2 separate regions of the Homo sapiens genome follow, and region 2 is linked to region 1. Evidence: fine-mapped expression QTL. A gene starts in region 1. The other region holds a variant in brackets. All regions are shown on one strand. Distances are from middle to middle. Region 1 holds the start of PCBD1 (pterin-4 alpha-carbinolamine dehydratase 1). Region 2 overlaps SGPL1 (sphingosine-1-phosphate lyase 1).

Region 1 (4,397 bases):
CAAGCTCTCATTTTATAGCTATTAGCCTGACAAAAAAATAAAAAGCTGGCTAATGGGAAGTGTGAGTATGTATGTGTAAGATGCATATGGAAATAGTACCCCCTCACACCATGCAGGAGAGAATGAGGACTGGTGTCCCCATCCTGGACATCATCTAGAACTATTTTGAGATACACACCCATGGGGGGAATTGCTGGATTTATAGGGTATGGATATACTTAAGTTGCCTAAGAAACTGCCCACAGCCCAGGGAGCAATTAGAGATGTTCACTGCAGCAGCATTGTTGTTTAACTCTGTGTACGTATGTGTTTGTGTGCCCACATGCTCACGGGCTTGGGAGGTGGTGGTAGCAGCAGAAAGTTGAAGGGAACCTGAGTGTCCATCACTGATAGAACAAGAAACCCATGGCAGATTCTCATTACAAAATACTAGGCTGCAGTTAAAAGCTACAGATTGAATATACATATAGCAACATGGGTAGATCTTAATTTTCCACTAAATACTCTGTTTTGTAAGAAACAGACTGAGAAATGTAATATATTTACATAATACCATTTACATAAATTTAAAAATACACATAGACGAAACAACACCACACATTTTGCAAGAACCTGTGCAAACAAAAATACACATTAACACATTAGAGAGGCTGCTATGGGCGGTGGTGGGGGGCGGGGAATAAAAGTGGAGCACAAGAATAAAAGTTAATAGAAAAATGTGAAATGTGAGAGGACTTTTCTAATCTGACTCTAAGACTTATTATAAAGCTATAATAATCAAGACAAGGTAGTGTTCTGTCATGACAGACAAACAGATCAATGGAACAGAAGAAAGGGCTCAGAAATAAACCCACATGTATACAGTCAATTGATATTTTACAAAGGTGCAAAGACAACTCAGTGGAGAAAGGAATAACTGAGTCGCCATGTGCAAAAGTGCATCTGGATCTATAACTTGAAGCATATAAAAATATTTACTCAAAGTGGATCACAGACTAAATGTAAAACCAAAAGCTATAAAACATAGGAGAAAACTTTTGATCTTGGGTTAGGCCAAGATTTCTATGTGTACAACATCAAAATAGAAATCCATAAAAGAAACATTTGATATATTGGATTTCATCAAAATTAAGAACGTTTGCTCTTTGAAAGGCACCATAAGATAATGCAAAGAAAATATTTGCAAATCACTGCCTGATCATGTCCTTATATCCAGAATAAAACACCCTCAAAACTCGATAAGAAGACAACCCAATTTCTTTTTTAATGGGCAGGAAATTCAAACATGCTATTCAATAAAAAAAACTTATCCTTAGCAAATAAGTACATGAAAAGACATTCAATACAATTACTAATCAAGGAAACTCAAAACCACAATGAGATACTGCTACACACCAATTAAAATTTAAAAGGCTGACTATATCAAGTGTTGGTGAGGACAGAGAACTGCAACCTTCATACACTGCTGCTAGGAATATAAAATGATACAACCATTTTGCAAAACAGTATGGCAGTTTCCTAATAAGTTATAAAAGTCCACCTACCACATGACCCAGGCATTCCATTCCTAAGTGTTTACTCAAGGAAAATTAAAACATACGTACTTTCGAAGATTTGTGCACCATATTCGCAGCAGCTTTATTTGTAATAGCCAAAAGGTAAACAACGCAAATGTCCAATAGTGAATCGCTAAACAAATTGTAGTCTATCTGTACAATGCAATACTATAAAATAAATTTTACTTAGCCATAAAAGGAAGAAACCATTGATATAGGCAACAACATGGCTGAACCCCAAAACAGTTATCCTGCCTAGTATATACTCTATGGTCCATTTACATAAAATTCTAGAAAATGCAAACTAATTTATAGTGACCTAAAGTACATCAGTGCTTGCCTGGCCAGGTGGTTTCGGGAGGAAGGGGTTACCAAAGGGCAAGGGAAAACTTGCAGGGATGATGATATGTTCATAATGTTGATCTCGGTGATGGTCTCACGAGGGAAACATTAAAATTTATCAAATTGTACACGTTGAATATGTGCAATTTATTGCATGTCAATTATATCCAAATAAGAGATTTTTATAAAGAAAAAAATAGGTATTCTGGCGCCCAGGGCCACCCAGCTGTAAGCGGCGGGGTGGGATTCCAACCCAGAAGCGGGCATTTGGAGCCCTCATGCTTCACCCTAGCTCCCTGAAACAAGCACGGAGGATGGCTCTGAGCAGCGAGGAAAGTGCTGGAAGCAAGCAGGCCGAGCGCGTCCCTGGCTGGGGACGTTAATCATTACCGGAGGGCGGCCCGAGCGCGGCCCCGCCCCGGGACGGCAGCCTGCGCGCCCGGCCGCCGCCTGCCCTCTCCGCTGGCCACCTGCTGCCGCCCGCGCCATGGTGAGTCCAGGGGTGCGCGGCCGCGATCGGGGCAGCGGGGCCGGGGCAGCCGCGGGCGAGGTGGGAGCGGGAAGGGGCGGGGGAAAGTCTTTTCGAGTCCCCTGCGGAGCCGCCGGGGTCCGAAAGTGGGGTCTCTGCCCGGCTCTCTGTCGCTGGCGGCGGGGAGGGGAAGCTGAAGCCCTGAGAGGGGCGGTGGCGGGTTCGAATCCCACCCAGTTGGGAGGCCAGGCCTGCCCTGACCCCGGCCAGTGCTTGTTCCGGGACCCTTCCGGGGGCGGGGCCTACGACCTTCCTGGGCCGGGGAAGACAGTCGTGGAGGAGTCCACGGATCTCGTCCCCTTGGTGGCCCGATTCTGCTTTATACTGGGGTGGGAGCGAGAGGGAGGCTGAGTTTGCGCGCTCGTGTGCGTGCCTGTCCGCTGCCCCTTCCCGCTGGCACTCTGGGTACGGGGTCTGCCTGGGACTCACGCTCTGCGCCGGTATGCTGGCCCCAGAGCCACTCCCCGCGCCGGCTTGAGGCCCGTGCCAGGCCACGGGGGCTTGGTGGCGCTGGAGCAGCCCTCCTCCCGTGAGCTTCCCCCACCCACCCCCGGGGCGGGGGCGGGGGCGGGGCCCTTGCTCTGCTGTAAGCTCGCGAGCTTCATCAGACCATTTCTGGTCCACAGGCCTTCGGAGCAGGCAAGACTGGGAGGGCCTTTTGATAGGAGAGGGACTTGGGGGAGGGAGGATGAGTGGGGCTGTTTGTGAGGGGCGCTGAGGTCCCAGAGATGCAGGCTTGGGAAATCGGTAACCACTCCCCACACCTCGCCAGAGGAGGCAAACGGGGCAGCGTCCCCCTCTCTGTCTCCAGAGCCGGCACCTGGAAGGTTTGTCAGTTCAGCCGCAGGCTGTGCGACCTGGGGGGTTCCAGAAGGCTCTACCGAGAAAGGGAAGCCTCCTAAGAGCTCACCTGGACTCACCCACCCCTTTAAGAGCCAAGGAAGTAAACAGTGGGCTCTGATGCTTTGGCTGACTTCTGGTTGTCTAGATACACGGACCAGGCGGTCAGCCACGGGGAGAAGGCCAGCTCTGGAGTAGAGACCTACCTACTGGGCAGATGATGCAAATCGCTGCTGCCATTCAATCCCTATAGTCATCCAGAGCCGAGGGGAAGAGAGGGGCCAAGCTACATCAGTCCAGAGAGAGCTCACGTTTTCAGGAGGGAAAACAGCAGGGAAAAAAGACGGACTTAGGAAAGCACTGCGATGCTTCAGCTACCCCAAATGCTACCAGGCCCATCACAAGCCTGCTTGCCTTAGGAAGTTTTTTTTTTGTAATGCAGATGACATTTGCTTTATAGCAGTGGAGTTTCCTAAAGTGTCCCATTGGCACCTCATGATGATCTGTGGAGGTGGAGGTTCTGCCAAGAGAGGTACAGCCACCTGGCTGGTAAATGGTGAAAGCGGGTCTCAAAACTCCTGCCAATCAACACATGGTGTCCAGTCTGCAGGCTGCCTCATAAAAGCTAAATCAACCTCCCTCACATTCCCTCCCCACCCCTAAGGGTATCTTTTCAATTCAGCACTCTATTTCTGCCCTGGGGTGGTGCTACTCTAGAAGCCTAGGTTCTGGGATCTGTTAAGCTCCTAGACCTGGATCCTCCTAGGATGAAACTGACCCTTGCTTCCTTGCTTTCTCTGAGGTTCCACTCATGGCCTGAATTGTGCCAATTTGGGCTGCCTTGAGGGCACTTCGCACATTAGGTAAATAGGATGGGGCACTAGGTTTGCCAGCTGCCTTTGGCCAAGTTCCTTCCACTTTGGCCTGAGCTTCCCAACCAGCCAGAAAAGCAGACGGAAAACCAGAGAAACCTAGCCCTGGCGGCTCAGGACCAGAGGCTGCCTGGGAGCATGACTGAGGACCTACTAGAGGTAGTGCCAACGGCGGTCAGCTGCAGTGTGGCTAAGAATGGGATGGACACTTATTTTAAATGTAGCTCCTTCGTCCAGCCCCAGCAATGCTGACACACA
Region 2 (4,397 bases), 55 kb after region 1:
AGTCTTGCTCTGTCACCCAGGCTGGAGTGCAGTGGTGCAATCTTGGTTCACTGCAAACTCCACCTCCCGGGTTCAAGCCATTCTCCTGCCTCAGCCTCCCAAGTAGCTGGGACTACAGGCACCCGCCACCACTCCCAGCTAATTTTTTGTATTTTTAGTAGAGACAGGGTTTCACCGTGTTAGCCAGGATGGTCTCGATCTCCTGCCTCGTGATCCACCCGCCTCGGCCTCCCAAAGAGCTGGGATTACAGGCATGAGCCACCGCACCCGGCCTCTTCTTGGCATTTCTAATGTGCCACGTTTCCAGTGTGCCTCAACTCAGGGTATTTCTCAAGAGTCACTCAGGGCCAAACTGCATTAGCCTATTGCATTATGAGTTAATTTGTCCTAGAAGGAAAGAATTCAACTCTGGTTAGGGAGAACAACCAAATAATTTTAATATATGAACTCTCTATGGTACCAGGTGCTGATAAGAATACAAATTAGGAGGAGGATATAAGTCTTCTATCTCCTACACTGCCTAAAACAGCATCTTCAACACAGCAGGAACTCAACGTTTATTCAAATAAAGTAATTATGATATTGCCTATACTTTTGACAGTTTTGTTTTGCAAGATCCTAGGATGTTTCTGCCTCCTCTCTCCCACATCTCTCCTATTTAAGCTTAACAAGACACAGTGGCAGTGGGTTGAATCTGCAGAGGAGAATGGCTGGTTATCTGTAACTGGACTCTGCACACCGTGGCACTCTGCCTACAAGTTCACAAGGTTCATCACATCATAGGCCATCAGAGCTGAACCTGTCCTTCACAGATGAAGACATTGAGGCCTACAGGTCACAAAGCTCGGAAATAGCGGAGCCAGGACTCAAATCTTCTGGTTTAAAATGCATTGTTTTTTCCACTGCCTAGTTTTCCAGAGCCAAACTATCAGTGGCACAAATCAGGAGACCAACAGTTCTCAAAGTCCTGTCAGCTAGTTTACTCCAAGAGCCAAAGGAAAGGCTCTCATCTTCACTACGCTCCCAGTGAAGGCATACAGAACTTCCAGATGACCTAACGGCATCCTACAAGGGCTGAGCATTTTGGGGAAGTGAACTGCTATTGCATGGCCTTTTCGAACTGCAAACTTCATTCTTCTCTGAGCTAGAGACTTACACTCATACTACTTATTTGCTTACAAAAGAAAGACGGAAAGAAATTAGTTTGAAAAGTACTTCAGAAAAGTTGTCTTCAAAATCATAAAATGCTACTGTCTGAAGGAACCTTAGAGACCACCTATAGTCCAATCTCATTGCAGTGATGAAGAAACTGAGGCCACAGACTAATACCAAAATGTGCCTTCCCTGGTTTCAAACTAGAGGCACAGCCCCCAAGAGAATCTATCTTCTTCTTCAATATTCTTTCCATAAAGCCAGTGGGGGTACATCAATATCATCCAAGAAGCATGATTCCTGGAACGAATCATCTTCTTGGGTCAGAATACCCCACCCACAGGGTCAGAGTACAGAATGTGTATTTTGTAAACCTCCCTCCGGTGATTCTGACAGGCAACACTGCTTAAGAATCCATTCTCTTCCCCATCCTTTTCTTTTATTAAAAGATGACCCAGTAGCTGACTTAACATATTACTGACACCCAATCACCAAACTTAATGGCTACCCGGTATTCACGCAGCAGGGAAAAGACATCCACGAAGCTTTCCTGGGAAGTGTTAAAAGTCAGGGCCCAGTCACGTCACTCTACTAGATATCAATTCATTGTTCCTGCCTAATATTTATTCTTTGGCCAGATACTAATAAAAATCAAAATCTTCTACCCCACAATCCTGCAAAGAAGACAGAATTTGTTATTTGTTTTCCTGAACTATTCAAC[G/A]CTCAATACTTTTTCCAGAAGGACCATAAATCTGAGCTTTACAGCAGGAATGGGCTGTTGAGGAAAAGAAAAATCTGTTCTACCCAGTTCAAATGTTACTCTAAGGACTAAGCCTCAGCCTAGGGAGTGAAGTTAAAATACAGAAGAGACTCAGTTAGTATATTTATTCTTATCAGCTTCTGCCCCCCCACCAAAAAAAGAAAAGCCAGAAAGCAAAGCTAATTTAATCTGATTTTCTTTCATATTACAGTCTACAGAACTTCAAAGTGCAAGGTAAACAGGTAAGAAAATACTATTGTCTTTATAGCCTCCAAAAGCATTAAAGTTTATCATCAAAAACACATCACAACCCCAAAGGGAAAATCCTCTTGGGTCATTAAAGAAGTAAGAACTGAGCAACAAAACCAGACAGCCATTCCAAGCAACCAGTAGTGACTGTGAGAAACGTTTGAGGAAACTGAATCATCATTTCTTAGGAGACAAAAAGCAAACCACATACTTCCCCCAAAATTCCACTATGTGAGTCAAGAGATCCAGTATCTGAGAAGTTCGTCTCAAAAAGCTTAAGAGTCTACATTTTCCCTTCTAGCCTGGCCTTGCCAGATATGTACACTTGGTACCATTCCCCAAGCACCAACTGCTATACACTTAGCATGGGAGTATTCAGGCAAAGCATCTTTCCATCCCTGAAATAACAAAACCATCTTGGCCACAGAAAGAACACACATATGAAATGTTCCCAAGTCATCAGAAGTGCACTCATGGAAAACCACAGCTTCTAAGTTCCTAAAAGCTGAACCCGAAACACTGCTAAATGGTCACTTTATTAATGTACTTGTGGTCAGGACAAGGCATCAAGTAAAGGGAGATGCTGATTCTGTTAAGTAACAATTCTGAGCACCTCTCTTCTGAAATACATATTTAAAAGTATCAGGAGCAGCTTATACTAGGAGAGAAGACTAAATGCATAAAACTGAATTCAATAAGCAGAGGAACACACTGAAGGACACAGAGATAAGAGCAATTACCAGTTTTGTAGGAAAATAGACTCCCAGCCTAAGGCAAGTAGGTAAGATATGGGGGGAAAAATATGCAAATTTGCACATGGAATGTTGCTAAGTTTGCTATGAACTCTCAGAGTCTGACAATAAATAGCTAAATGACTTACTGTGCACATGTATACAGGTTATATTTCAAAGCACAAATGAGTTTCATCATTCTCTAAAACTAGAAATGATAATTTCTTGGATAATAAGCAAGATCTAGTGGAAAAGATCCCGTATTTCTCACACAGAAAGAAGTCTTAACTTCTCTGAGCATATCACGATTGGGGAAGGGCAGAGGTTAGCTGACTTCTCCAGTCCCATACTTATCTTACTAACAGAATTCTCTATCTTTGTCTGGGAGTTAAGACACTTAGACTTTTCATAACCATTTGTGGAAATTCCTTCCCTACAACAGTCATGCTGCTATTAGAGATGAGGAATACTGAATATTTGCTGAGAAGTGTAACCTAACTAAAGCTATTTCTCTAGAGATTTCCAACACGTAAGCCTGCTCAAAAGAATAAGCAGGGACCTATCCCTAGGTCTCTGACTGACCTTCAACTATATAAACACCCTTTGGAAAGTGCATCTTCGAAATTACCAAGAACCTACTTTTAAAAGCTGAAGTAAGCAGCTGAGTAAATTTAATTTAAAATTAATACTTGGAAGAGTTTCAAACTTTGTGGTATCTATTGAAAGTGAGCAGGAAAGTGTGCTTCTGTGATGTTATACGTATATATTGGTTTGCATCCATGGTTCCTGGTTCATAACCCCCATAGCCCTTGTTATAGTCTTCTATTATAATGCTGGGGCACTTTGGGCCTCAGGAAACAGAATCTCTCTCAACCTTCTCCTGTCCTCTTTTACCTGCCTCAAAGCAAGACTCTAGTCCAACTGTGGGCCAAAAAACCCTCATTCCTGGGAGGGTTGTGCCCCATATTCTGGAGGAAGGAAGGCTGCACAGAAAGGCCAGCGACAACCTGAACAGACAGGCCTTGCTGGGTTTCCGGTCAGTCTATTAGTATGAGATCATGCCTCCTGTGTCCAGTCACATTTCTACATGGTTGTCAATCATGCCTATGTAACTAAGCCTCCATAAAAACCCAAAAGGACAGGGTTCAGAGAGCCTCTGGATAGCTGAACACATGGAGGTTCCTGGAGGGTGGTGCACCCAGGGAGGCATGGAGGCTCCACACCCCTTCCCCTATACCTTGCCCCATGCATCTCTTCATTTGTAACCTTTGCAGTATCCCTTAAAATAAACCTGTAAACCTAAGTAAATGTTTCCCTGAGTTCTGTGAGCTGTTCCAGCAAATTAATCCAATCCAAGAGGAGGTCATGGGAACCTCACCTTGAAGACAGTCAGTCAGACATTTTGAAGGACCAGACTTGTGACAGGTTGGGGTTGGGGGAGACAGGTATGGGTTGGGACTGAGCCCTCAACCCATAGATCTGATGCTATCTCCAGGTAGACAGTG

What was found. PIP is the estimated chance that this variant, and not a neighbour inherited with it, causes the effect.
Region 2: its variant is the best candidate, but not a certain one, in a credible set for the expression of PCBD1 in lung (TOPMed, PIP 0.66).

Annotation. Positions count from the first base shown.
Region 1 is chr10:70,886,522-70,890,918 of GRCh38, reverse strand. It overlaps PCBD1 (pterin-4 alpha-carbinolamine dehydratase 1), which reads left to right and starts at 2,354. Exons shown (of 4, transcript NM_000281.4): 1 at 2,354-2,388. The coding sequence starts at 2,386. RefSeq lists silencers at 2,238-2,487, 2,818-3,097.
Region 2 is chr10:70,831,332-70,835,728 of GRCh38, reverse strand. The region is part of intron 2 of SGPL1 (sphingosine-1-phosphate lyase 1); the gene reads right to left. Among named protein-coding and RNA genes, the nearest start is that of SGPL1, 18 kb to the right of the region's middle. The variant G/A (reference allele first, on the strand shown) is at 1,874.